Linked DNA regions of Homo sapiens. The protein of the gene in region 3 purifies or fractionates together with the protein of the main gene of each other region. This does not show direct contact. Each region holds a gene or a part of one and is shown on either strand. Other genes may lie near its edges. The genes, in order: FRMD5, SLC47A1, FAM234B and TRIM13.

Region 1 (7,187 bases), on a different chromosome or scaffold from region 3:
GGGAACTCTTGCTGGAGAGGGGAAGCTATCTTCAGCCACATGAACCAGAATGGAAGCCTGACAGTAAGGCCAGGCCTGTATCTAATCCATAGTCCATGAGGCTTTGAAAGTAGCTATGTCATACGTCCAAGTTACACTTCAGATTATTCTTTTTTTCCTAAATATTGTTAGGAGTTATAGCTTGGTCTTAGCTGTGTTGGGGGAAACTTTGATGGGAAGGGCCTGTGTTTGTCATGTCTTGGTGAAGAGAGGGCAGTACTCCTTCCTGCCAAAATCTAAAGAAATGGTGAAGGTTGCATTGGCTAAAGAGAGAGACCAGTGTCCCAGAACAGCAGGGTATAGAATATCTGAAGCAGAGACACGAAATGCTTTGTTTAGTTTTTTCAGGCATACGTGGGGGATAGTACCTCCCCTGGGGACTCCCTCATAGTAGAGAAGGAAAAGAAATTCAAAAGACGGCTGATATTCTGATAATTTGGAAGGTGGGGGTTCAGAGCCATTATAATTTGGATTCTTATTTTTAAATGTGGCCTCCTTTATACTTAAAGACACATGAAAGCTATGGCACGCTGGTTCTCAAGGGCAAATAAGGCCTTTTATTAAATAAGCCCTTTCCATTCTGGGCATCCTAGTTAATAGATTTGAGGAAAACAAAGATAAACAAAATATTTCTGTTTGGTTTTACTTTTTATTTTATTTGGAGACAAGGTCTTGCTCTGTTGTCCAGGCTGGAGTGCAGTGATGCAGTCATAGCTCCTGGCTCAATTGATTCTTCTGCCCAGTCTCCCAAAATTCAGTTTGGTTTTATATGAGCCCTTCCTTTCTAGTTCTCCTTATGCTTCTTCTCATGAGCTTTTTTGTGGAGACATACATCTAGATTCTTGCTTTTCTTCCATTATTTTTTCATTCTCTGTATTCCTCACAAAGTGTTTTGTATCAGAGAAGAAGGGAGAGTTTGAAGTTCTCTCTGGATATTACACCTAAGCATGAATGAATATCTAACTGGTCTTTCGGTGAGGTGAGCATCTAAGCAGATGTGATTTTTTTTAATTCCTTTTTTTTTTTTTTTTTGAGACAGGATCTGGCTCTGTTGCCCAGGCTGGAGTGCAGTGGTGTGATCTTGGCTCACAGCAACCTTCCCCTCCCCCTAGGCTCAAGCAATCCTCCCACCTCAGCCTCCCCAGCAGCTGGGACTACAGGTGTGTGCCACCACACCCAGCTAATCTTTGTATTATTATTATTATTATTATTGTAGCTATGGGGTTTCACCATGTTGCCTAGGTGGGTCTTGAAATCCTGAGCTCAAGCGATCTGCCTGCCTTGGCTTCCCAAATGTTGGGATTATAGGCATGAGCCACTGCACCCAGCCTCAGACATGATTTTCTCAGACTGAGCAAGGATTCTACTTAACACATTGACATAGGAAATACAGTCTCACCTCTGTTGATTGCAACTATGGCCATACTTCGAAAAAAGACTGCATTCAGTTCCTTAGAGCTTTTCTGGATTCATAGTGCTTTGCCTTTTCATTCTAACAGCTGCTTATTTGGATAACCTGTTAAAAACACTTTCCTACCATCACACTTATGGACTTCCTCTAGCTTGGACATTTTTTCTTGCTCTTGTTGATTCTATAACAAACAGTAACTTTTGCCTTCAACAAAAGCTCTTTCAGTTTGAATTTTTTTTCCTTTCTTTCTTTTTTTTTTTTTTTTTTTTGAGATGGAGTCTCGCTGTCTCCCAGGCTGGAGTGCAGTGGCCAATCTCAGCTCACTGCAACCTTCGCCTCCCAGGTTCAAGCAAATCTCCTGCCTCAGCCTCCTGAGTAGCTGAGACTACAGACACATGCCACCATGCCCGGCTCATTTTTGTATTTTCAGTAGAGACAGGGTTTCACCATGATGGCCAGGCTGGTCTTGAACTCCTGACCTCGTGATCCACCCACCTCGGCCTCCTAAAGTACTGGGATTACAGGTGTGAGCCACTGCGCCCAGCCTGAAATATTTCATTATCTTCTTACAGCTACATAACAAAGCTGAGCTTTGTAGAATATCACTTTGGCATATTAATAATTTTACTTGTCTCCAAGATCTTCCTGAAATTTTGAGTTTCTTCACAGGTCTTCTTCCTCTGGGATTTAAGTGCTGTAGAACACCTGTCAATTCCATTTACTTCAGTTCATCAATTTTTTTTTTTTTAGACCGAGTCTTGCTCTGTTGCCCAGGCTGGAGTGCAGTGGCACAATCTCAGCTCACTGCAATCTCTACCTCCCGGGTTCCAGCGATTCTCCTGCCTCAGCCTCCCCAGTAGCTGGGACCACGGGCGCATGCCACCACACCCGGCTAATTTTTGTATTCAGTTCAACACTTATTGAATACCTATTATGTTTCAGGCATCAGACTACCTGCTGAAGCTACAAAGTAGTGGAGCGCATGCCTGGTTTTATGCCTGGAACACTTGACTTACTAGTTCTAGACTCATAACTAACTCCATCCAAATTGCATTGAAAAGAGAATCCTGCTCCTATGGCTATTAAATGCCACAAAGGAGAATGCAACCAATTAAGAGCAGTCCAGGTTACTAAGGTGATAGAAAGAAAAAGGGGGAGGGAGAGGGGGAGGAAGAGAGAGAGAGAGAGAGAGAGAAAGAGAGAGAGAGAGAGAGAATGAAAGAGAATGAATCTCCCCATGCAAAAAAAAAAAAAAAAATTGGGGAAAATATTGGAATCCAAAGACACTAGGGAAGAAGCATACTTTAAAGGCGGGATAGTTTTCTAGGCTAATGTAGAGTTTCATTTTTGTTACACATTATACCTATAAACAAGAACAGTGCAAATGAAAGTAATAGGAAATTATGCCTATTTCATTATTTTAAATTAATATATTTATTACAGCATTAATGTTCTATGTTGACACGATTATTTTTTTTTTTTGAGACGGTGGCTTGCTCTTGTCCCCCAGGCTGGAGTGCAATGGCCGTGATCTTGGTTCACTGCAACCTCTGCCTCCTGGGTTCAAGCGATTCTCCTGCCTCAGCCTCCCGAGTAGCTGGGATTACAGGTGCGTGCTACCATGCACGGCTAATTTTTTTGTATTTTTAGTAGAGACGGGGATTCACCATGTTGGTCAGGCTGGTTTCGAACTCCTGACATCAGGTGATCCGCCCGCCTCGGCCTCCCAAAGTGCTGGGATTACAGGCTTGAGCCACTGCGCCCGGCCGACATAATTATTTTATAACATTTCCTCACATCAAAAATCTTTGAGGGAGAATATCTCTTATTGAAGTTCTGGTAAAAAACCTTGAAGTCTGTAAATTTGGGGTGACAAAGAGAAGGAGACAATTCTTTGTGATGTATACCTCCTGACATACTATGTTGTTCTATTGAGAAAGTCTGAAGACATAATTTCCAGTTCTAAAAGTGCAAGGAGAAGATTCATTGCTTCCTCTGCTCCCTACCAGCTGAAGGAGCAGTCTCCTTTTGTCTTCTGAAATAAAAAGGAGGCAAAGGGTGTTAGAGTGGAGGGTTTTTTAGGGGATTAAACCTGGGTACTTCAGAACCTCTGAGGTCCCTTTAGCTTTTATTTAAGTAGCTCCTGTTTCCCAAAATAAGAGGGCTGGAGCACAGAGGCCAGACGGGCCAACTTAGGGTACAGCACAGGTCGGGGGCAGTCGCCCTATCTGGAGCGAGAGGTATCCGCATTCTGCAGGTGCAGGGACTGTGATCCAGCACCCTGCCGCCTCCTCGCTCCGGCTCCCAAGAGGGCGGGAACCGCGGTGTTGCAGGGTGCGAGGCTTGGCTTCGGAAACGCAGATCAAGTGTATTTCAGGCGGCAGACATCAATCCAGTTGGGTGCTCACACCTGGCCCGGGGGAGGGGAAACAGCATCCATAGGAACCACGGGGCGGAGAGGAACCCCTCGTTTGGGACGCTAGAGGGCTGCTCCGGCTTGACTAGGTCCGACTGCTTTTCTGTGATTGCTTCTTTATCCCGCCCATCATCCCAGTACTCTATCTCGATTGGCTTTTCGGTCTGCCACTCGGTTCCGCCGCGCTGACCCCCATTGGCCCCCTCCAGTTGAGGCCCCGCCCCGCGAGCTGGGCACGGGCACTGGGGCGCCGAGGAGACAGAGCCCGGCGCTTGATCTGGGCTGGGGGGAGGCGGTGGCGGCTGAGGGAAGGAGGAGGATAAGGAGGAGGAACGAGGCCAGCAGGAGGCAACGGCAGCGACGGGGCCGGGGTGATGGTGCAGGTGCCTGGGGTCGGTGCGGAGCTGCCGGGCTGAGGGACGCCTGGTCCAGGGTCCGCAGCGCCGCCGCGTCGCTCCCGGGCGGGCGGGCGGGAAGATGCTGAGCAGGTTGATGAGCGGCAGCAGCAGGAGCCTGGAGCGCGAGTACAGCTGCACCGTGCGGCTGCTGGACGACAGCGAGTACACCTGCACCATCCAGGTCAGCGCCGCGCCGCCCCGCCCCGCCCGCGGGACCCCCTTGTCCCCCAAGTCTGGTCAACTTGGCCGGCGGCGGCCGCCGCCCAGGGGTCGCCCCAGCCCCAGCGCCGTGCTTTGTCCGTTCCTGGTTGCGGCGGACCGCCCTAGTGCAGGGCGTCTTCACCGGAGCCCCTGCCGGAGCCCTGGCACCCGGTGTGTCACCGCCGCCGCGGGGCGAGTCTCCGCGTCCCACACCCCTAAGTCCTACCCTGCTCTCCCTGGGTGAGGGCGCCCCGTCCTGGTTCCTCGAGCCCGCCCGAGTAAGGTGCACCTTTCCGGGGCGCCCGGAGGGAGGCGGGTAGGGCGGTAGGCTCCTAGCCCGGCCGCCCCGTCGGGGGCGCAGGCTTTGGCTCTCTGCCCGGGCAAGGACGTATGGCTGGCTTTTCTTATCTTTCTTGGGTTGGAAGGATAATGGTTTATGTCATAATTCCTCCCCCCACCATTTGTGAGTCAGAGCTTTCAGAAGGTAGAACTGAACGCGCAGCCCATGCGGAGTGGCCTATTGAAGGAAGCCCAGTCCTCTGGGTTTTAGAGATTTAGGCCCCCTCCCGCCTTTTGATCCCCAAATTTTATTGTGTTGGGCGGTTCTAGGGGACGTGAGGTAAAGATTTAGCAACAAGTCCCAGCGATTTGGGGCTTGGAAGTGGCCAGGAAGAATCGGCGACTTAGGAAAAACGCCAACAATACGGTAATGCTCAACAGCATTTCTTTCAGAACCTGGTATTTTTGAAGGGATTTTTACAACCTCTTGCTCATGTTCCTTCGCTACTGCTGTGTGCACGTCAGGAGTAGTAGTCTTTCCCGGGAATGCAGTCACAGCCCTCTCTCCTCCCTTATGAAAAAGTCAGAGATTGAAAACATTGACAATGCTCCCGTGTTTAGTTCATCAGCCAGGAGGATCCTGCGCTCATCGCCGGAAGCTGCTCTTTGTGGAGAAGCTAATTGAGCTGGACCCAGAGGGGTCTCACCTGATCCTTTGCCTTTGCAGCAGGAAAACAGGAGGAGGCTTCTGGCTCAGATGTGACAGACAAAAACTGTCGGCCTGGGTCCTACCCTCAGTGTCTTCTTGCCCCCCGCCTCCTTATTTATTTATTTTTGCTGACAGTGCTCAATCGCGGAAAATAGCGGTGTGTGAGAAAGACACTGGGTAGTGTATGAGAGCAGCTGGTCTCTGCTGACTCCGTGCTCAGTTCAGCCTTCTCCTCACTTTCCCTTTTCTCCCTCCCCTCGAAACCAGCTCTGGGCATAAGTGCTGACTGCTGCCAAAGATCCATGAGGGTAGAGAAAGAGCACAAAATCTCTTTTTAAGGCTACTTAAATACAGACTAAGCAGTCATAAAGATGCTAGCCATCAAGTGAAAGGATTTTTGTAGTTGAATATGATAGAGAGATGCTCTGTATTATTTCCTTGCTGAATGAGTGGAATACTACTTTTTGTTCCTATTGTATCATTGTGCCATGTCCAGTTTTTTTTTGCTTTTTTTGTTTTGCTGGGGTATGAGAATACATTGAGTTGATATCTTCACCATTTGAGTATATTGTCTAGAGCTTTTTAAAAGTCTTTATCCTTTTGTTTTAAAATTTAAAGCATTTATCCAATAGCATATCAAGGGGAGTGTGAGATTTAGACTTTATAAGTCCTAAGAATACTTTTGGGGTATGTGAAATAATTTCCGAGGCAGGTCATTAACTTTTGCCAAGGTGTAGAATACAAATAAAACACAATTCACATCACCATTTCGCTAGAAATGATTGTTAACCTTGTGGTTTTAAAGTATTGCAGTGAGGCAAATAGTTATTTTTTTCCCAGTTAGTGGAACCTTTGAGGTTGCTTGATTGGTATTATAATTGTGGGTAGTTTTTATTACCATTTAGAAAAAAAATATTTTTGAGTTAAATAGGACTTATTGGATTTGTGCTTGCTATATCCCACTATAGCTGTACTTATTTTCCTACTGCTCTCATTTTACATTATTACAATTTAATTTTATAAAATATCTAGGCCACCTAAAAAATTAAGCTTGGTGTAATATGGCCACACTGTAGTAAGTGTCCACTGTCTAGACATGTTAATGATTGTGCATTGTGATTTTTGCATGGAATCTAAAGAACACAGGGATTGTTAAGTATATGTAATGTTGTCATTCTTTGGCATCACTTTGGCGAATTGCTTTTGTTTTTACCCATGTGAGGAAATGTAGCAAAAAGACAGTATCTTATATGAAATTAACATTTTCTGCATGTAGCTTTTTTGAACATTTAGAAATTGAGCTTTTCTTATCAGCTTTTCCCTTCATGCATTTCTGTAGTGAGTGTGTGTGTATATGTGCATGTGCTTATTTGTTAAATACTGGGCATAGGATCTTTTAAATCAGTATGGAAAGGATCTGTGAACTTCTTATTAGGTTAAGCAATATTCCCAACATTTTAGGCATTGTAGCACTGTATATTTTATGGTGATAATTTGAACTCATTTTCCTTAAAGTGTTGTATGCCATATTTTTGTTTAAATAAAGTATCTATTTTAGAATGATTTTACTGCCTTAGCATAATCAGAGACTACTTAGGATATTACAGAATCAGAAATGTATCACTGGGTTGGAGTCATGATAGTTCCATTTGGTAAATTTCAGTTATAAGAAATTCTGTCAAAGTATTTGTCTATCCTTTCATAATGCAGCATTTATTCCGATCTGGCATTTAG
Region 2 (7,847 bases), on a different chromosome or scaffold from region 3:
TTTGAGAAATAAGCACCATTCGGCTCACATTTCCATTGTGTTATGGGTTACTCTCTTTACAAAGCCCTCATTTAAAGCCCAGTGAGACCTCAAGGGTCAGGGTTAACTTGAGAGGTCTGGAAGGGAGATGGCAAATGAGAGAGAAAATTACAGAGAGGAGAGCCAGACAGGGCATCTTCCTCATGTTATGTTGGACACTTGGAGAAGAAAGTATTGGACAATGAGCATGGGAAAAGAAGGGGGTGGTCTCTCCTTATCCCATGCCCTTTAGTAAACAGAAAACTTTATAGCAGATGGGATTAGAGATGGGAGACAGACCCAGGCCGGTCCACATACACTTCATGAGAGACTAAGCAGGTAGCAAAACTCTACAATCACATTTTCACAAAGCAGAGACACACACACACAAAGGACTAGAAGGAAAGCTCCCAAATTACCTCTCAGCGGTGAGATTTCAGAGGGTTTTTTCCTATTGTTGGTCTTGGTTTTCTATTTTTTTCTACAGTAAATATGCATGACATTTGTAATAAACACAATGGTATACATATATGTACATACAAAGAGAAAAGGTGAGGTCCCCAGCATGTCAGTCTAGTGCTCATCCCTGGAGACCTGGAGAGGTCCCCCACATCAAGGGGATCAGGCTACTGGGAGGGCTGGATTTCAGAAACCTGCCCTGTTATTATTATTATTATTATTATTATTATTGCTATACTATTAAAGCAATAACAGGCTGGGCAAGGTGGCTTATGCTTATAATCCCAGCTCTTGGGAGGCCGAGGCAGGAGGATTGCTTTAGCCCAGGAATTCAAGCAATGGGCAACACAGGGAGACCCTATCTCTAACCCAAAATACAAAAATTAGCCAGGCATGGTGGTGTGTGCCTGTAATCTCCGCTACTCCAGAAGTTGAGGCTGCAGTGAGCTGTGATCACACCACTGCACTCCAGCCTGGCCGACAGATCAAGACCCTGTCTCAAAAAATAATAATAATAATAAAACAATAATAGCCTTAGAAAGCCCCTTCTCACAGCAGCTCTGTGAGGGAGTGTTGAACCAAGACATGATTATTATCTCCATTTTACAAATGAATATGCAGAGACCAGAAGAGGTTAGGAGGCTGTTTCAATCTGCACAGCTGCTTCCTGACTTACTTTCGGAGGTCAAAGCAGGGCACGCAGCCCCAGGTCTTGAGATTCCAAATCATGAGGTGTTTTTTTGCCCAGGCTGGAGTGCAATGGCGCGATCTGGGCTCACTGCAACCTCCGCCTCCCGGGTTCAAGCGGTTCTCCTGCCTCAGCCTCCCAAGTAGCTGGAATTACAGGCGCCTGCCACCATGCCCAGCTAATTTTTATTTTTTATTTTTTGTATTTTTAGTATAGACGGGGTTTCACCAGGTTGGCCAGGATGGTCTCAATCTCTTGACCTCGTGATCCGCCTGCCTTGGCCTCCCAAAGTGCTGGGATTACAGACGTGAGCCACCACGCCCAGCCATGAGGTGTTTTTGTTTTGTTTTGTTTTGTTTTTTGAGACCAAGTCTTACTCTGTTGTTCAGGCTGGAGTGCAGTGGCACCATCCTGGCTCACTGTAACCTCCACTTCCCAGGTTCAAGCGATTCTCGTGCCTCAGCCTCTGGAGTAGCTGGCACTACAGGCGCCCGCCACCACGTCTGGCTAATTTTTGTATTTTTAGTAGAGACGGAGTTTCACCATATTGGCCAGGCTGGTCTCGAACTCCTGACCTCAAGTGATCCATCTGCCTCAGCCTCCCAAAGTGCTGGGATTACAGGCGTGAACCACCGCGCCCAGCCCCAAATCATGAGTTCTTTCTGGTCTGTGAGAAAGCATGGCTGATGGATCTTATTCCATGGCTTTGACCTCGGCATTACCCTTGCTGTCCTGCACACCACAGCGGGTGCCACAATATCCCACAAACTACCGAGCCCCCACTCCAGAGGCACAGCGGCCCCCCTCAGCCCGCGCAGGTGCAGAATGTGGGCCTCAAAGTCAAAAGCTTATTCACGCCTTAAGTGCATACCAGTTGCTTCTTGTGCCGCGTCCTACCCTCTCGGTTTGAAAACCACCCAAGCTGGCAGGAGAACGTGGATAGGATTGTGTTTTTGTGGTTTTTAAAACCACATTATTTTTAGGAGACAAGGCAGAAACAGCCCTAACCTAATGATTAAAAAGAAAAGAATCCCACAGATAAGAACACCTCGACCCCACAAAGAACCACATTAAAACCCCTTTTTTCTTTCACATACATAATTACTGGCGGGGAGGGGGTGGTACAGGATGCCTCTGGTTTCCTCGGTAGAGGTTGACTGAATTCTGAAGAAATCATTTCGCAGCTCTGAGTCCACGACAGACCACGCACCCCCTCCTCCGTGCCTCGGGATTATTTAGATCGCAGAGCTCCCGAACTTTTGACCGCTACTTTTCAAAGAAACAAGTTCCCTTGTGTTTTGAAGTTCAGGCAACTTGCGTTTTATTGGCCGGAATCAGCTCCCAGAGAAGGCACCCCCGGATGCAAATGCAGCCTGGACCTGGTAGAGCCCCGTTAGGGGCAAAGGTCCCAGCTCTCCGGTGTCTCCTGGCGCAGGAGGCTGGAGCCGCCGGCCTCTCCGAGCCAACATGCGCCCGGGCGCGTACCAGCCGTTCCCGCAGTGCCCCGCGGGGCCCCCAGTCGGGTGGTGCGGAGCGGAAAGCGGCCGGGACGCAGGCAGAGGAGCTGGGGTGCCCGCCCGGCTCCTGGCACGATGCTCCCCGGAGCCCGCCGGCGGACAGCTCGCTCGGTCCCCAAAGCCCGCCAAAGTCACCCGCGGAGGCAGAAATCACCAGGTCCCCAGCCCGCCGGTACCGGCCTGCCACTGAGGCCACCTTACTCACCGCGGGGCCAGCCAGGACCAAGAGCGCCCGCAGCTCTTCTCGGAAGGCGGACAGCCGCAAGCAGCGCGACCCACGGACCTCAAGGGTGGCCTCCGGGCCTCCGCGCACTGGCGCGGGCTCCTCAGGAGCTTCCATGTGACTCGCGCGCTGCGGCCGGGTAGCGCGGAGGCCGGCAGTGGGTACCGCGGAGGCCGGCAGTGAGTACCGCGCAGGCCGGCAGTGGGTACCGCGCAGTGCAGCCTGCTCTGCAGTCCCCGCCCCGGCCGCCCGCCCAGAGCCCGCCCCGCGCCTGGCGCCCGGGGGCCCGACTGAGCGCGCAGCCAGGCAGCCTGCGACCTTGGGCGCGCCCCTTGCACCTCTCTCTGCACCACTGCGGACGCCTGCGGGTCTTGCAAAGACCAAGGAACTCCTGCACTTGGAAGGCAAAGTTTGAAAAAGCTCTGTAAACTAACGGAACGCGCTCCGGGGGCTGGGTCCTCCACGTCTCGGACGCCAGGACTCACCCCGGCTCTCCACCTCCGCTGGGGGTTTCAGGTTCTGAATGACCTGGCGTGGAAGGACCCAGAGGCCTCGAGCCGTGACTCGGTTAGCACCCCGCGGGGTGTGTGGGGTTGGGCGCATTTGCTGTGCAGATTGAGTTGGGTACACCCTTTGATGCTGGTTAGGGTGTTGCATACTCCTCTCCTCTCATCAGTTGTTCCATTAGAGAACTTAGAATCTACCAGGATAGAGCAACATGCTCCCATTTGCCAAGTAGCACAGTTTGTGCCAGCTGGTCGTGTTGGAAGTTTATCCATCAAGCCTGCTGTGGGAGTACGAGAGGCTGCGGCCCAGAAGGGCAGGAGCAGCGCGCTTTCCTCCCAGAGCCTCAGCTTCCTCATCTGCAAACGTGAAAGAACACTCGTCGCCAGCTGTGAAGACTGGGGTTGCCTGGGCGGAGGACCGGAGTCAGTGCCACCTGCCCTCAGCCTGGCACCAGCCGTTACCTAATAAGTGTCAGTTACCAGGACAAGATTGATTTCTCTAATAGTCAAAATTCCTTCCGTTGTAATGATCCAATGTAAGTAGAGAAAATGGAAAACAAATTTTTTGGCTCACATAATCAGGAAGTTTGGATTCAGGGATTTGAAAACAAGGTCATTAGGCCAGGCGCGGTGGCTCACGCCTGTAATCCCAGCACTTTGGGAGGCCTAGGCGGGCGGATCACAAGGTCAAGAGATCGAGACCATCCTGGCCAACATGGTGAAACACCGTCTGTACCGAAAATTAGCTGTGCATGGTGGCGCGCGCCATAATCCCAGCTACTAGGGAGGCTGAGGCAGGAGAATTGCTTGAACCCGGGAGGCAGAGGTTGCAGTGAGCCGAGATCTCGCCACTGCACTCCAGCCTGGTGGCAGAGGGAGACTCCACTCAAAAAAAAAAAAAAAACAAAACCAGATCATTCTTGTTGTCCCTCTTCCCATCTCTGTCCCTCTCCTCCCTTCTCCTCGCCCCTTGGGATTCTTTCCGTAGTTTCTCTTCCTCCTCTGCCGGCAGCCTTTCTCTTCCTGTGCAAGTGACAGTGGTGGCCTCTGATACCCTCGTTCCTATCTTTCCCGTCTGTTAAACCAGAAAGTAAGGCCCTCCCCTCCTCTCTTCTGGTTCCAAACTAACAAACAAAAAACTGGGAGAAAATCTGGTTGGCCCTGCTTAGGTTTCTTGCCCACCTCTGGAACAATCGCCCTGGGTGGGAAAATAGGGTCTGATGTTTGGCTGGCCCTGGACCATGCACCCAGCTTTGAACCTACAGGGTTAGGGTTAGGTGCCCTGTGACTGGTCTCGTCCCACAAGGACTGTACATATGGAGTAGCGCAGTTTCCCAAAAGAACTGAGAGTGTCAACAGACAAATACCCGAGGATATTCACTAGATCTCTGATCACTGCTGTTTTTTGATAATTTTCTGGAAGTCCTGACTGATGTAATAAGACAGGAAATGGAAATGTAATGTATAATGTTAGGAAAGAAAAGGCAAAGGGATTACTCACAGTAGAAATTGACAGACCGGGCCAGGCACAGTGGCTCATGCCTATAATCCCAACACTTTGGAAGGCCGAGGTGGGAGGATCACTGGAACCCAGGAGTTTTGAGACCAGCCTGGGCAACACAGTGAGACCCCATCTCTTAAAAAAAATCCACACAACCCAAAGAAATAAAATATGAACAAAAGCTAATAGAATTGATAAAGGGGTTTAATAAAGTTGCTACATAGAAGTTCTTCAACAAGTCATATCAGTCCTTTATATTGGTAATAACATATATGAAAATACTAAAAGAAATCTTTCACAATAGCAACAAAAAACAAAAGGTCCTCGTGATACAGAGCATAACTCCTCACTCCTTAAAGGTGGATTGTACACAGTGACTTCCTTCCAAAAAGTAGCACAGGAAAATTAATTTTCAATTAATATATTAGGTTTTAGTCCACTACTGTGTATTCCATTATTTTAAAATTTAATAGAATGATTCTAAAAGCAATTGATAGTGTAAACAGGAAAAGATATAACAAAAACTCTGAAAAAGAAAAGTAAGGAGGAAAGAAGTAGCTCTATTGGCTGGTAAATAGCTTTTAAAACAACGTGTGGTTGGCTGAGCACATTGTACAGGTGAGTAGCCCACACCTGTAGCCCCAGCACTTTGGGAGGCTGAGGTGACAGGATCGACTGAGCCCCGCAGTTTGAGGCTGCAGTGAGCTATGATTGCACTACAGCACTCCAGCCTGGGCAGCAGAGTGAGACCCTATCTCAATAAAAAACAAAAAACAAAACAATTAAAAGAACAAAGAACCCTGTTACTTGGAAAGTGTTAGGATTTTGATTGACATTGCATTATATCTGCAGATTTATTCAGAAAGAATGCACCTCGTTAAAATTCTGTCTTCTATTTCAATCATATCCCTAGTCTAATCAGTACTCATCTAGGGAATGGGAGACTCACTGGACTAGGGATATGATGAATTTGTTATTGATGCTTGATAAATAGTCATAAGTATGTTCATATACGGTTCTTAACTTGCTGAAATATATTATTAAAAGCATGTATTAAAATTGAATTTTATCAGGGTTTTTTTTTTTTCTTTTCGGGGGGACAGGGTCTCTCTCTGTCGCCTGGACTGGAATGCAATGGTTTGATCTCGGCTCAAAGCAGCTTCGACCTCCCTGGCTCAAGCAATTCTCCCACCTTAGCCTCCTGAAGAGCTGGGACTACAGGCATGTGCCACCACACCCGGCTAATTTTGTTTTCTTGTTCCTTTTTTTTTTTTTTTTTTTTTTTGAGACAGAGTTTCACTCTTGTTGTCCAGGCTGGAGTGCAATTGTGCGATCTTGGCTCACCGCAACCTCTGCCTCCTGGGTTCAAGCAACTCACCTGCCTCAGCCTCCCGAGTAGCTGGGATTACAGGCATGTGCCACCACACCCGACTAATTTTGAATTTTTTTTTTTTTAGTAGAGTTGGGGTTTCTCCTTGTTGGTCAGGCTGGTCTCAACCTCAGGTAATCCACCTGCCTTGGCCTCCCAAAGTGCTGGGATTACAGGCATGAGGCACCATGCCCAGCCTATTTTCATATTTTTTATAGAGACAAAGAGGTCTCACTATATTGCCTAGGCTGGTCTCAAACTCCTGAGCTCAAAGTGATCCTCCTGCCTTGGCCTCCAAGAGTGCTGGGATTACAGGCATGAGCCACTGTGCTCTATATATATATATATATATTTAGTATTAATTGAAATAATCAAATTTTTCTTCTCTTTTCGGTTGTTAGTGTAAGTTCATTGTAGATTTCCTAATGTTTAGCTGTCACTGATTCCTGGAATAAACTTCCCTTATTCATAATAGTATACTATAACAGGTATATAGTGGTAGATTTATTGCTAATATTATATTCAGGATTTTTATATTTATTTATTTTTATACAGACAGGGGTCTCACTATGTTGCCCAGGCTGGTCTTGAAATCCTAGGCTCAAGCAGTCCTCCTGCCTTGGCCTCCCAAAGTGCTGGGATTACAGGCGTGAGCTGCTGCGCCTGGCTTCCGTGAATCTTTAGGCTCTGTAATTATTCAAATACCATAAGAATGATCTGTTTCTTGAAGGTTTGAAGGCCACTCACCTAGAGGACCATCTGATGCCTTTATAGAAGGGGTATTTTATTTAAAAATAAGAAAAAAAATAAAAGGTTTTCTGTTTATTTAGAAGTTGCTGGTCTATTCAGGGTTTTGTTTAACCTCTTCTTGAATTAATTTTGGTCATTCATGATAAGTGTTTATTGATTGCTGCTGTAACAAATTACCACAAATTTAATAGCTTATGATAACACAAAGTTACTATTTAACAGAGGTCAGAAGCCTGAAATGGGTTCCGTGAGGCTGAAATCAAGGTGTCAGCAGAGCTGCGTTCTTGCTAGGGCTCAGGAAGAATCCATTCCCTTGCCTGTTCCTGCTTCTAGATGCCGCCTCCCTCTTCCTCCATCTCCAAAGCACATCACTGCAGCCTCTGTTCTTTCATCACGTCTCCTTTTTCCAGCTTTTACTCTCTTGTCTTCCTCTCAGAAAAAGAGATTCCATTAGGCCCACCCGATAACCCAGGATAACCTTTGCATCTTAAGATCCTTGTAGTAATCACATCTCCAAGTCCTTTTGCCATGCAAGGTTATGTATTCACAGGTTTCAGTAGATGGATGGGGACATCTTTGGGAGGCCTTATTCAGCATCTCATACTCACCATGTTCTGACCACGTCTGTATCTTCCCTGTAATTTTAAATTCTGATTAGCTTTTCATTTTCTAGTGGGTACTTTCTCAGGATATTGTGGCGTGTGCTTTCTGAATGTTTGCGGTCATGATATTTTACACATTCCCATGCTTCTAGCGTTATACATTACAGGTGAAAACTCCAATCCACTCCAATTCTCTCTCTCTCTCTCTTTTTTT
Region 3 (7,267 bases):
GTCTCATGTTTCCGAGCATATCTTTTCCTCCTGGTTTTTTGTTCTTAACTACTTTTTCGCATTCTTGATTTTGCTCCTGTCTCTTATTAGGCAAACAGTCGGTTGCTGTAGGTACAGAGATTAGTGAGACAGTCTTTCTCCTTAAGGATATCACCATTTAGTTGGGGCCGAGGTGGCAGACATGTAAAGAGTAGTGTTGGGAAAGGTGCAGAAGTGGAGATGCATTCGACAGTGTAGAGGAGGCCACAGCTCTTGTCTTACATGAGAAGCGTGTTCAGCAAAGATGACAGGCACTCTGTGTTCACATCTTGCTGCCAGAAGTGTGAGAGGGAGCTGAATACACAAGTGTGGTTGCTGCCTTACCACCATCCACTTGCAGTTTTCTGGCCTCTTGTTCATCTCTGCCTCTTATCTCCTTTGCCTGCTTTCCTTTTTTTATCTCTCTTGTGTGCTTTTAGGTGTCTCAAGACCAGCTGCTAATCTTGTATGCCTTTCGGGGATGAATGGCAGCACACTGTGGTCTAGTCTTCTCCCTGAGGAGGCTCGAGATATCACATGTTTGGAGCTGATGCCAGGAAGCTTGGCTGAAACCATCTGCCTTGTGACAGGGACACACAAGATGCTCAGCGCATTCAATGCAACGTCAGGTAAATACCATTTACCACAAAAGAACTTTGCTCCTACGAGCCATACTTTTGGATTAGAATAATCTGTTGGGTAGGGGACCTTTTGACTCTCACGTGGTGGAGTATCTGATTTACTGATCTGGAATATGGTTATTAAGAGAAATGAGAGAAAAGGTTTGGGCAGATTGAGTAAACAGATCCATGGTTCAACCTGTTTGGTGATAGGATGGGGCTGGAACTGAATTACCCAAACAGAAACTACCCTGAGGCCTTTGGTGTGTAAATAGTCTCCCAACTCTGTTCTTTGTACAAAAGACGACTGAACTTTAATTCTTCATATTTGGTATACATGGGGGCCATGTGTAAATTTGGCATTAACTACTTAAAAAAATACGTCAGTGAAGAAATAAAGGTTTGTTGAGGCTTGTTGACTGGCCTTTTAGCTTCTTACTGCATTCAGACATACATGACAAAAGGGAATGAAAAAGAATAACATGTCCTGAAGGCTCTTATAGAATCCTAAGTATATGGCCCATAGGCTTAGTACTGCTGGGCCGTGTGCTCACGTGGAGCGGAATAAATAACATCCTTCCCAGGTTTAGAGGTTGGAGTTTGGTCGCGGGGTGCTTCTGAGTGAAAAAAACTGGGATTTGAGTTAACTGTAGAACTGAAGCCATCTGGAAAACTTCCTATGATGCTGTGGTGCTTACTTATGTGACCGTGTGGGGGAAGGAAGCAGAGTGGTCTGGTCGGCTGCCCCTGGGGGTTCCTTAATAGTTGTTATAATCTCTAACAGACAGTTCCCTCACCCCAGGCAAGTGAGCCCTTCTTTGTTGGAAAGGATTTAGCACCTCCATTTTATCTAAAAAAATCTAGGTGAGAAATCATTGCATGGATTTGTTTGCCAGATACTTTAGGATTCGGATCACACTGCCTGCTTCCTCCTCCTCAGTAAGACAAAAACGAAAGGCAATAAGTAGGTAGGAGTTGCTGTCTGTTGTTCAGCCCCTTGCGTCTTTCTTTTCTGGCCTGGGAACATGGCATCTGCCTTTTCCAAAGGCAAGAAGTTGTCATAGTGACCAGCCTATGTGTCCTTCCTCAGGGAAAGCCATTTGGACTTTAAACCCAAACTACTTGTCCAACGGTACCTTGGCTGCCCCAGTTGTGGTACTGCCAGACTTGGATGAAGACGGTGTTCGAGACCTTGTGGTTCTGGCCATTGGGGAATTGCAGGTATGATCTCTATTAAATGTTTTTTGTTTCTTATAGGGACTGCTTCTATTTTAGTTGTCTCAGCTCCTAGTGTTACATTATAAATGCTGCTTGAAATGTTCTTTTTACAAGGGTTTAGGTTTAAGTAAATTCTCTTTGTGAGGTTAAGTGAATACTTGACCATTATGAACCCATTTTCTCTGGCAGCCTCATGGCTCCATGGACTGGGGTGTAGTGGAGCTTTAGAGTTAGTTAGGTCTGTATGCGAATTCCACCTCTACCACTTTATATCTTTGAGGCCTTGGGCAAGCCGTGGAGCCTGTCCAAGCTCTGGTTTCTTCATATGTAAAAAAGGCATGTTATATCTACTTACATCATTGTTATGAAAATTACAGCTAACATATTTAAAGTGCCTAGAGTAGTGCCTAATTTTTGCTGTGTATATGTATTTTTAGTTTTACTGTATTATATATATGTACATTTTATGTCAATTATAAAACAACAGAACAGGCTGATACAAAGTTCATAAAAGATACATAGGAAAAAATCTAAGTCAAGCAATAATAACAACAATGACCAAAGAAAGGAGTGTCATAATCTAGGCTGTGACAAGGCAGACTTTGATTCAGGACAGTGGCCCTTGAATTATGGTCCTAAATTATGATTTGCAGGAACTTCAGTGTACTGGTTACTCTGCACACAGATAAAATAAGAGTAGTCTTTCCCCCAAATCACAGGAAGGAATAAATTAATGAACAGAATAATCTCAATTTTAAGTTTTTATTCTGGAAGCGTTTTTCAGAGCTTTTGTCAAAGTTTCTCTAAGACTTTTTCTCAGACTTCCTAGTGTGTCTGCCAAGGAAATGCTTGTGCACAAAAGAGTCAAACAATCGGCAAAGAATGTTTGTGGAAAAATGTGGATATGGCTAATTTTGTCTCATTTGATAACCTATTTTAATTTTAATAGACCTTGTGTTTGCTGTTGTGATCTTTGTATTGCATATATGGAGTAGAGTTGTAAATTCTGGAGGTGAAATTATGTAGAATGGAATGAAATCTGTTAAGATTTTGTGGCTTTCTGCCAAGAGTCCCCCAAACTTAAGAGTGCCCCATCAGTCATGAGTTTTGAGGAGCACTGCTCTAGCACACTAAACTCTCCCTCACATTTGCAAGATAAAGGCAAGATCCAGAATGAGCTAAATTTCTGAAGCCTACTTAGTTTTAAGGGTTTTAAGCTTTAAGGGTACTTTATGTTCGTTTTCTTCAGCTAGCCAGTTGGTCTCAAAGTGGACCCGAACCAAGGATTCAGGAATTATTCATGTAATCTTTTTTATCCTAGCCATTGTGAATAGAGAGATTGGGGACTAGGGAAAATTTGAATTATTACTTCCATCAGGGAGCAATTCTTTGAAGGGAACATATGGGGAGACACGGCAAGCCATTGAACAAGTTTTTAAGTCGTGATTGAATTTAGAAATCTTGGTCTAACCATCCCGTCTGGCCGCTTATTAGCTGGTGGTGGTTGGCAGGATAGTGGCTCAGGCCCTTGGGGACCCTCCATAGTAAGGAGGTCTCCACTGGAGGAAGTGGCTTCTTGCCCACTCTTACTCTGTGCCCTTTGTGTTGGTCTCTACTCAGTGTATTGCCCATCTTGCCCTACAGAATTTACTTGTTTTCACAATAGGGTACAGCTAGGGCATAGTCTCAGTTCTGCTTGAAAAGTGGTAGACAGTTCTAGGAAAACCTTGTAGAGGCACTAGGTATATAGCGCAGCAGCTTCATCCTTGTACTGACCTCTTTTGACCTCTCTGCCAGCAACAAGGGACCCCAGGAACCTGTATAAGCTCCTGAGATGGAAGACTCTCTCTTCACAAGGAAGGAAACCTAAGTCTGTGACTTATAGTGATTGCGTTCATTGATCTGGGTTTAGAGTGAAGTGGGCTTGGAGAACTGGACCTGGTTTTTGATTACAGGAACTGATAAGGTCTAGAACATTAGTGGGAAGGGACCTTGAAGACCATTTGGTTAACTTTCTCACACCATGCTATGATCTCTGGTTCAGCATTACAGACATGTTGGCACCCCTACTCTCTTGGTGCACTCAGGCTGATGGGAATAACACTAATTTGTGAGGCGATCCATTTCATTTTTGGGCCAGCTCCAGAAAATTCTGTCCTAAGCAGAAAGAAATCTGCTTTCTCATAGCTTCCACTCATTGTTCCAGCTTCATTCCCATAGAGCTACTGTGAATGAGTCTAATCCCCTTTCTATAGGAAAGCCCTTTAACCATTAGCCTAGTCCCTCTAAGCTTGCTACTCAGGACTAAATATCCCCATTTCTCGTACTGTTCCTCATGCAACCAGGAAGTCCAAACCCCTCTTTTTCTTGATTTCTTTCCCTTTGCATTCTAGTATGTCCAAATCTCTTTTAAAATGTGGTACTTATATCTAAAAACAGCATTTTATTTGTAGTATAATTAATATATCAACCTAAGGGAATTGTTTCTTATTTTGATGTAGACTCTGTATTTCTGTTTTTGCAGCCAAAGATAATAATATTTTTTCTAAGATTTGCTTTCTGTTTGTAATCAGCTAAAGTACCTATATCTTTTAATGATTAATTATTAATAGACCAGTTTATTTTTTTGTGGCAGATTTTGACTCATCTTCCAGCCTAAGGTTTTTTTGAATTTTGAGTTTGTCATATGCCATATTAGCTATCCCTCTCAGCTTTGTGATAAACTTGAATTCTATTCTTTCAAGTCTTTGATAAGAATGTTTAATAGGAATGGGGCAATAGCACAGTGCTATGACATTCCTCTAAAAACCTCCCTCTAGGCTAGTATTGATCCCATAAGTACCTTTTCCTGGTACATGGCAAACCACATTTCTTTATCTTGTCCATAGAGTTCATGATGATAAACTTTGTCAAAAGCTTTACTGAAGTCAAGATATCAGTAAAATCCTCATATTTCTTAACTGGTGACTCTACCCCAAAAGAAATCCTCTAGAGCTGAAGTTGGCAACTGTGGCTTGTAGGTTAAATTTGGCCCACTACTTGTTTTTATAAATAGAGCTTTATTGGAACATCCTCACACCCATTCATTTATGTGTTATTTATGACTGCTTTCACACAAGAACAGCAGAGTAGAATAGTTGCTACAGAGATCATCTAGCTGGCAAAGGCTAAAATATATACTATTTGACCCTTCACAGAAAAAGTTTGCTGTTCTCTCTTTGAGAATAAAGTTGATGGTGTCCAGGCCCGACATCTGGTGTTCTGATGGGAGAGCACTGCCTCGATTAACTCTAGCTGGAACCAAATATTACTGGGGATTTCTGGTATTGAAGTAAAGACCCAGGGGCCAGCCATCCTATGTTAAGCTGTAGGCTAGAATTCTGTGCCTCAGGAGACTATTCAGCAAGCAACAATTCTGCTTCAGAGTAGCTGTCTGAGGTGCTTTGAAGATGCCCTTTGCCTGGCTCTAGTGAGGCAATGGGACATTTGCTTCACTTGCTTACTTGCAGGGAAATAAAGCGAAGCAGGTTTGGCTTTGTGCTTTCCAACTTGGGGGAGTGTTTCTGAGCCCGTGGCTTATGAGGAGGCAGTGACTGTCTGGAGAAGCCATTTCATTAGCAAACGATAGGGCTTCTATTGACTCCACCCCCCTCTCTTACTTCCTCAGCCAGATCTGTGCTTTCTGCTGGTGTCTGGCCGGACCGGAAATCCAGTGGGTCGACCTGTGAAGTACAACATCGTTGGAGTTGGGAATCTGATTGGTCCTCAGGTTTACATCACCACAAATGGGGCTGTCTACATCCTGTTTGGCTTTGGTAAGAAGCAAGGCTAGTTTTTGCTCCTGTTCCCCACTGGCATTTGTGATGAGGCCTTCCTTGTGAGACAGGGTGAAAGCTCAGGAACTCCTGACACCAGCCTTCCCATAGCCTTCTAATGCAGGGGCCTCTTACTGTCCCCCACCGATCACAGGCTATTAACTCTGCCTTCCCTTGCTGCCTCCTCTGAAGGGAAGACTCTTGTCCAGCACCCACTTAATCACCTCCCCACTTGTTCCGTGTTGTCCAGTCTGGGCGGGCTCTGTTAGACCCATCTGGTCAGGCTCTGTGTCTCTTGCTCAGATCCTCACCATGGGACAGTTCTGTTAAATTCAACTTCTCAGTGTTGGTTCTTCTGTGGTGCTAGGAAATATACAAGCTGTCGCACTGCGGGACATTTTTGTTCAGGCCCAAAATCGAGACAGCTCACCACCTTCTCTGCAGATAGAAGAGCCAGAATGGGAAAAGCGAAGATCCATCAACCTGTCTGAGCTCATTGATGTTTACAGGTAGGGCAGACGTCTGTCCTTGGTCACAGTGAGATCTCTTGTGAACTCACATGCCTTTGAGTCTCTAAGTTTGGTTGGGCTGGTGAATATGTGGGTAGAGGTTTAGGGGAAACAGTGCTTATCTTAATTTACCATCTTCTGATCTGGTTAACATGAGTTAGAAATTTTCTTCTCTTGGTAACATAATGCGTTGATATCTATGTGTTGGTGACCACATGTGATCACTCCTCAGGTAGGATGCAAGGAAGGATACTTAGGGCTCTGAGTCAGAGTAGGGAGGGAGATAGACTTATCTAACTGTTTGTGAAACTGTGCTGAAGGATCTGACCTACTCTTTTCTGTATTTTTCTCTTAGTTGAAGCATCATTTTGACAGAAGCAAGGATAGTGTCCATGAAATCTTATTTTTTATTTTTATTTATTTCCTAACTAGAAGCATGTAGTTTGTCACATGCAGGGGATTTTACCCATTTAACCCCAAGCCTGGCTAATAATTGTTTCATTCTTTCCTACCAGAAGTTCCAAATCATTTTCTAGCATTTTCTTAGGCAGTATCATGGTGTTTTGGTGACTTTGACAGGTATGAAGTAGAATGGTCCCAGTGGCACTGAGCAAGAACTAATTCAGTGAAATGTATGCCATGGGCTGCTGCCCAAGCTCATTGGCAACCTCTGGCCTCCTGTCCAGATCTCTGTCTGCCTTCCCTGTGATTATCCTTGGCTCTGTTGCCTTTCCCAGAGTATCCAGTGTGAGAGATATTGCACTGTAGCACTTTTCCTGTGAGTTCCTTTTGAACTTGTATGGAATTTTCTGGGGATCCTTGGTTTCTAAGGTCAAGAAAATGAGATTCAACTGAAACAACAGTACATCCCACTTGATGAGATAATGGTGGGGCATGAATACAAGAGTGTGTACAGGTGTACGTATACTGAGAGAAAAAGCCAAAGTAAATGGCTCAGAAATCTCATCCAAGCCAGAGACTAACCGTTGGGGTCTTATTTAACCCAGTGATGGTGTTGAACTACTCCAGATGGTGAAGGCACCAGATTCCAACTGCAGCAACCTTCTGATTACAACCAGACAAAGCC
Region 4 (7,267 bases), on a different chromosome or scaffold from region 3:
GCAAAAAATACAAAAGTTAGCTGGGCATGGTGGTGGGCGCCTGTAGTTCCCAGCTACTCAGGAGGCTGAGGCAGAGGAACCGCTTGAACCCGGGAGGCAGAGGTTGCAGTGAGCCGAGATTGTGCCACTGCACTCCAGCCTGGGTGACGAAGTGAGACTCTGTCTCAAAAAAAAAAAAACCCAAAAAAATAGGGCCCAGCGTGGTGGCTCACGCCTATAATCCCAGCACTTTGGGAGGCTGAGGCAGGTGGATCATGAGGTCAGGAGTTCAAGACCAGCCTGTCCAAGATGGTGAAACCCCGTGTCTATTAAAAATACAACAAAATTAGCCGGGCGTGGTGGCCGGTGCCTGTAATCCCAGCTACTCGGGAGGCTGAGGCAGGAGAATTGCTTGAACCTGGGCAGCAGAGATTGCAGTGAGCCGAGATTGCACCACTGCACCCCAGCCTGGGCAACAGTGAGACTCTGTCTCAAAAAAAAAAAAAAAACGCCAGGCACGGTGGCTCACCCCTGTAATCCCAGCAGTTTGGGAGGCGGGTGGATTGCCTGGGGTCAGGAGTTTGAGACCAGCTTGGCCAACATGGTGAAACCCCGTTTCTACTAAAAATACAAAAATTAGCTGGGCGTGGTGGCAGGTGCCTGTAAATCCCAGCTACTCTGGAGGCTGAGGCAGGAGAATTGCTTGAACCCGGGAGGCGGAGGTTGCAGTGAGCCAAGATCACACCATTGCACTCCAGCCTGGGTGACAAGAGTGAGACTTAGTCTCAAAAAAAAAAAAAAAAGCCATAAACTAATTAACCCTGCAAGCTCAGCTTGTCCTTTAAATACTGTTTACCTTCTAGATATAGTCCAGTCATGTATGGCTGTTGAAATTACTGTTAAAAAAGTATTCGCTTTTTTTTTTTTGAGACAGAGTATTGCTGTGTTGCCCAGGCTGGAGTGCAGTGGCGCTGTCTCGGCTAACTGCAAGCTCTGCCTCCTGGGGTCACACCATTCTCCTGCCTCAGCCTCCCAAGTAGCTGGAACTACAGGTGCCTGCCACCACGCCCAGCTAATTTTTTTGTATTTTTAGTAGAGACGGGGTTTTACTGTGTTAGCCAGGATGGTCTTGATCTCCTGACCTCGTGATCCGCCTGCCTCGGCCTCCCAAAGTGCTGGGATTACAGGCATGAGCCACCCGTGCCCGGCCAAGTATTCACTTTTTATCATAGATGGCCTACCGATTAAGTCATATGTTATTGTTGATAATGTGATATTGTTGATAATGTGATATGTGCATATATCCCTGAGTAAACTGAATGTAGAAATATGTAGTACTCTTTGGTTTTACAACTATAGAGATGAATGTATATTTAAAATAAACTTGTGGCCTGATGCAGTGGCTCACACCTGTGATCTCAGTGCTTTGCGAGGCTGAGGCAGGAGGATTGCTTGAGGCCAGCTAGTAAGACCTGGTCTCTACAAAAAAAAAAGTAGCCAGGCGTGGTGGTGCATGCCTGTAGTCTTAGCTACTTAGGAATCTGAGGCAGGAGGATTGCTTGAGCCCAGAAGTTTGAGGCTGCAGTAAGCTATAATTAGGCCACTGTAGTCCAGCCTGGACAACAGAGCAAGACCCTGTCTCTCAAAATAAGAATTAAAAATAATAAACCTGCATTGAGAAATGGTATTGCCTGTATTAGGGATCTCAAATATTTTGGTCTTAGGACACTTTTACACTCTTAAAAATTGAGAATCCTGGCCTGTAATCTCAGTGTTTTGGCAGTCTGAGGTGGGAGGATCACTTGAGCCCAGCAATTTGAGACTAGCCTAGGCAATATGGTGAGACCTCATCTCTACAAAAAAAAACTACAAAGAAAAAAAAAATTAGCTGAGTGTGATGGTGCGTGCCTGTAGTCCCAGCTACTTGGAGGTTGAGGCAGGAGGATGGCTTGAGTCCAAGAGGCAGAAGTTGCAGGGGACTGAGATTGCACTGCTGTACTCCAGCCTGGGTGAAAAAGCTGTCTCAAAAAAAAAAAAAAAAAAAAAAAGAGAATCCCAAGAACTTTATGTTTGTACTGTCGATATTTACTCTATTAGAAATTAAAACAATTTTTAAAAAATACTCACGTAAAATAACAATGATAAACCCATTACAAGTTAACAAATAATTTAGGAAAATAACTATTTTCCAAAACAAAATTAAGAGAAGCATGGCATTGCAATAGAGGCCTGTAATGAATGGCTATTTAATAGAAGACAGCTGGAGTCTTTTGTCTGCTTCTGTATTTAACCTGTTGGAATATATTATTTTGGTTGAAATAAACGAAGAAGGCTGGGTGTGGTGGCTCATGCCTGTAATTCCAGCACTTTGGGAGGTGGAGGTGGGACGATTGCCTGAGGGCTGGATTTCTAGACCTGCCTGGGCAACATAGTGAGACCCTGTCTATAAAAAAATCCACGGCCAGGCGCGGTGGCTCACGCCTGTAATCCCAGCACTTTGGGAGGCTGAGGCGGATGGATCACCTGAGGTCAGGAGTTCAAGACCAGCCTGGCCAACGTGGTGAAACCCCGTTTCTACTAAAAATACAAAAATTACCTGCGTGTGGTGGTATGTGCCTGTAGGCCCAGCTACTTGGGAGGCTGAGGCAGGAGAATCACTTGAACTCGGGAGGTGGAGGTTGCAGTGAGCCAAGATAGCACCACTGCACTCCAGCCTGGGTGACAGAGTCAGACTCCGTCTCAAAAAAAAAAAAAAAAAAAAAACAACAACAACAAAAAACACTAAAACTAAAAATTAGCAAGGCATGGTGGTGCACACCTGCAGTCTGTAGTTACTTGGGAGGATCTCACTTGAGCCCAGTATTTCAAGGCTGCAGTGAGCTATGATCATGCCAGTGCACTCCAGCTTGGGTGACAGAGTGAGACACCCCATCTCTTAAGAAAAAAAGAAAAGAAAAGGAAATACACAAAAATCTAGGCTTACACAGATATGTAGTTGGTAAAGGAAGGAATATTATTTAAATAGCCTTTTCAGGTAATTTAATCTTTTTTTTTTTTTTTTTTTTTTTCCTGAGGCAAGGTCTCTCTCTGTTGCCCAGGCTGGAGTGCAGTGGTGCTATCTCGGCTCACTGCAGCCTCTGCCTCCTGGGCTCAAGGGATTCTCATACCTCAGCCTCCCGAGTAGTTGGGACTACAGGCGCATGCCACCATGGCTGGCTAATTTTTTTGGTATTTTTTTTGTAGAGGTGGAGTTTTGCTATGTTGCCCGTACTGGTCGTGAACTCCTGAGGTCAAGCGGTCCACTCTCTGCAGCCTTCCAGAGTGTTAGGATTACAGGCGTGAGCCACTGCTCCCAGCCTGAATCTTCTTGTGATACTATACAAAAACTCAGCAAGTGCTAGTTTCTTTGTTGGAGTATGGAATCTGAAATTGTTTATGAACCTGTTGGTCTTTCGTGAACTTCAAATGGATCTTTTACCCATGCCTGATTTGTAACATGCATTAGTGACTTGAAATAGTATTCACTGTGTTTTGCAGATCTCCAAATATTGACACATTTCATTATACAGTACTCCTTTCCCCTCAGAAAATCCTCACATTCATTAATATCACTGCCCATCTCATCATAAAAGTCTTTAATTAATGGGAAGCTGTCAGGCTCATAAATATCAAATGTTTTCCAAAATTCTAATTTTTACATAAAACCCAGCCTTTTCATTAGCAAGAGATACTGTCAATTGTTTTCTTTGAAGTAGCAAGCTCATTTTTTTTCCCCAGAAAATGTCAGGTAGCTAAGTCTGAATAGCCATAGTTTATCATTTGTTCTTTCAGAAGGTAAAAATGGTGTTCCATGAAAAAAAGCAGCTGGTTTAACTTGCCGCTCTTCACTTAAGTGCTTTTTCTCCAGACAACATCTGCCGGTATGCAGAAGTGCTTTGTGCGTACTGCCTATTTTGTCACGCAATATATTAAAAAACTGTACACAGGCTCAAGACTTAATAAAATGAATAATTTTTACTGCTGCATCAAGAACATTCTTAAGTGAAACCGGTACTCCAACCCCAATTTGGGTGGTGATGAAGAATACAATTCAGCGCTTCTTACAGCTTTGCTCGATCCCTCCTAAGGCTTCAGCAGTGTCTACACACCATTGCTTTTACACCATTGGTACAAATGTTGACATGGTGCAAAAAGCAAGTAACATCTTAGTGTCATTACGAAAATAGTTTTGATCTCACAGATGCCCTGAAAGAGGGACATCCAGGTTTCTGCCCACCACATTGTGAAAATTGATGATTCTAGATAATACAAAATGGCTTCTGTTACTGTTCTGGTGGTTTAAAAACAACAAAAAACCTCATTTAGTTCTCTACCTAGAAGAGTGAATTGCAACTCTCATCTTGTGCTTTTACCTGTGATTTTAAAAATTGTAATCTTGCCTTTGAAACAAAAATATGCCAATTCATAATAAAGTCTACATGAGAGTACATGTTTGGATTTATATTTCTGTGCTTCTTTCTTTTATATAACATACCATTTCATATTTGTGGGCCCAGAGTAAAGAGCTCATTCTGTTACAGACACTGAATAGCCTTGTTTTTGTCAGTAGTCAGCTCTGTTTTAAAACAATTGCTTGGGTCCTGCTGGCTCAACTTGCAGTTGTCCTAGTCCTGAGTCTTGTCTTAGCCAAAGACTGTTGTTGGAAAGCCCACACAAAGGCCTTGTGTATAGGATGCCCTACTATTAAAGGAGCATGTTCTAGTCTCAGTGGATTAAATTTGCTTTGGTGTGCATTCCCTTACCAAATTTCTCACTACTTTGTTTGGCTGGTTATTTCAGTGAAAAATCATTTTAACGTGAAGGCAGATTTCTTCTAATTATTACATAGTCCTAGTGGTGACGGTTATTGGAGTAAAATAATTTTTTTTTTTTCTGGTAGGATGTGATGGAGCTGCTTGAAGAAGATCTCACATGCCCTATTTGTTGTAGTCTGTTTGATGATCCACGGGTTTTGCCTTGCTCCCACAACTTCTGCAAAAAATGCTTAGAAGGTATCTTAGAAGGGAGTGTGCGGAATTCCTTGTGGAGACCAGCTCCATTCAAGTGTCCTACATGCCGTAAGGAAACTTCAGCTACTGGAATTAATAGCCTGCAGGTTAATTACTCCCTGAAGGGTATTGTGGAAAAGTATAACAAGATCAAGATCTCTCCCAAAATGCCAGTATGCAAAGGACACTTGGGGCAGCCTCTCAACATTTTCTGCCTGACTGATATGCAGCTGATTTGTGGGATCTGTGCTACTCGTGGGGAGCACACCAAACATGTCTTCTGTTCTATTGAAGATGCCTATGCTCAGGAAAGGGATGCCTTTGAGTCCCTCTTCCAGAGCTTTGAGACCTGGCGTCGGGGAGATGCTCTTTCTCGCTTGGATACCTTGGAAACTAGTAAGAGGAAATCCCTACAGTTACTGACTAAAGATTCAGATAAAGTGAAGGAATTTTTTGAGAAGTTACAACACACACTGGATCAAAAGAAGAATGAAATTCTGTCTGACTTTGAGACCATGAAACTTGCTGTTATGCAAGCATATGACCCAGAGATCAACAAACTCAACACCATCTTGCAGGAGCAACGGATGGCCTTTAACATTGCTGAGGCTTTCAAAGATGTGTCAGAACCCATTGTATTTCTGCAACAGATGCAGGAGTTTAGAGAGAAAATCAAAGTAATCAAGGAAACTCCTTTACCTCCCTCTAATTTGCCTGCAAGCCCTTTAATGAAGAACTTTGATACCAGTCAGTGGGAAGACATAAAACTAGTCGATGTGGATAAACTTTCTTTGCCTCAAGACACTGGCACATTCATTAGCAAGATTCCCTGGAGCTTTTATAAGTTATTTTTGCTAATCCTTCTGCTTGGCCTTGTCATTGTCTTTGGTCCTACCATGTTCCTAGAATGGTCATTATTTGATGACCTGGCAACTTGGAAAGGCTGTCTTTCAAACTTCAGTTCCTATCTGACTAAAACAGCCGATTTCATAGAACAATCAGTTTTTTACTGGGAACAGGTGACAGATGGGTTTTTCATTTTCAATGAAAGATTCAAGAATTTTACTTTGGTGGTACTGAACAATGTGGCAGAATTTGTGTGCAAATATAAACTATTATAAAATCTGTTTCAAGTATGCAGTTTTCTTTTGTTAGAAATTGTTAGAGAATAGAGAGTGGTAATTCAGATTTGGTCAACGATTCTAGTCACATATTTTCCTCCAAAAGTATTCCTTCCAAAAATAATCTATACATGTTCAAATTAGGTAGCATAAAGATAAAAGTGAAATTTAGTAGTATAGGCCTGAACCTTTTTTTGTTTAAAAGAGTGCTTTTGAAATAAGCATCCACCCCAAATGTTGGTTGTATTTATGCTGTGATAAAAATAGGTGAGAGATCATATGATCTAATATTGTATTGATGGAAGTATAGGTAGTATAGTAGTGATTGTTCTTCAAGCATGCAGTAAAGATCACTTTTTTTTTTTTTTTTTTTTTTGAGATGGAGTCTTGCTCTGTCGCCCAGGCTGGAGTGCAGTGATGCAATCTTGGCTCACTGCAGCCTCTACCTCCCAGGTTCAAGTGATTATCCTGCCTTAGCCTCCTGAGTAGCTGGGATTACAGGCGCGTGCCACCACGCCCAGCTAATTTTTTGTATTTTTAGTTGAGACAGGGTTTCACTGTCCCTTAAGACCATCCTGTTAGCCAAGATGGTCTTGATCTCCTGACCTCGTGATCCGCCTGCCTCGGCCTCCCAAAGTGCTGGGATTACAGGTGTGAGCCACCGTGCCCAGCCAAAGACTGCTCTTAAAGCACCTTTTTGACAGTGAACATGGTCTAAAAAAGGGAAGATATTGTAGAAGATTTCACACACACACGCGTGTGTGGGAGACAACTAAAGGTATTGAAGGTACTAATTAATTAGATTTCCAAAATTTTCTACAGAGAGTTAATTATCACCAAAATGTGAATGGTACATACAAAACCTGGCATTTTCTTGTGATAAGTTTACATTTTTAGGAGAGTGGAGCTTTCAATCTGCCCTTTTCTCCTTTGTTTTTGTAGTTTTCACCAAAGATGATCAACTAGAAATGTTAAGTGGCTATGCAAGCAAAAGCATAGATAGGTTAAAAAAAAGGATCAGCTGGCTGGGCAGGGTGGCTCATGTCTATAATCTCAGCATTCTAGGACAGTGATGTGGGAGGATTATTTGAGGCTAGGAGTTCCAGTTCGAAACCAGCT

What was found.
Region 1: the proteins of FAM234B (region 3) and FRMD5 purify together in Homo sapiens (affinity purification with mass spectrometry; 3 studies listed by BioGRID and IntAct, with this or other methods). This does not show direct contact.
Region 2: the proteins of FAM234B (region 3) and SLC47A1 purify together in Homo sapiens (affinity purification with mass spectrometry; 2 studies listed by BioGRID and IntAct, with this or other methods). This does not show direct contact.
Region 4: the proteins of FAM234B (region 3) and TRIM13 purify together in Homo sapiens (affinity purification with mass spectrometry; 2 studies listed by BioGRID and IntAct, with this or other methods). This does not show direct contact.

The regions. Positions count from the first base shown.
Region 1 is NC_000015.10:44,192,211-44,199,397, reverse strand, and holds the start of FRMD5 (FERM domain-containing protein 5), read left to right. Parts: upstream 1-4,126; 5' UTR 4,127-4,343; coding exon 4,344-4,445; intron 4,446-4,951; exon of another isoform or gene 4,952-5,171; intron 5,172-7,187. UniProt on the Homo sapiens protein: May be involved in regulation of cell migration. May regulate cell-matrix interactions via its interaction with ITGB5 and modifying ITGB5 cytoplasmic tail interactions such as with FERMT2 and TLN1.
Region 2 is NC_000017.11:19,529,115-19,536,961, reverse strand, and holds the start of SLC47A1 (multidrug and toxin extrusion protein 1), read right to left. Parts: upstream 3,109-7,847; 5' UTR 3,023-3,108; coding exon 2,888-3,022; intron 1-2,887.
Region 3 is NC_000012.12:13,061,117-13,068,383, forward strand, and holds part of FAM234B (protein FAM234B), read left to right. Parts: intron 1-458; coding exon 459-647; intron 648-1,728; coding exon 1,729-1,859; intron 1,860-5,523; coding exon 5,524-5,671; intron 5,672-6,038; coding exon 6,039-6,180; intron 6,181-7,187; coding exon 7,188-7,267.
Region 4 is NC_000013.11:50,007,017-50,014,283, forward strand, and holds part of TRIM13 (E3 ubiquitin-protein ligase TRIM13), read left to right. Parts: intron 1-4,918; coding exon of another isoform or gene 4,919-4,924; coding exon 4,925-6,148; 3' UTR 6,149-7,267. UniProt on the Homo sapiens protein: Endoplasmic reticulum (ER) membrane anchored E3 ligase involved in the retrotranslocation and turnover of membrane and secretory proteins from the ER through a set of processes named ER-associated degradation (ERAD).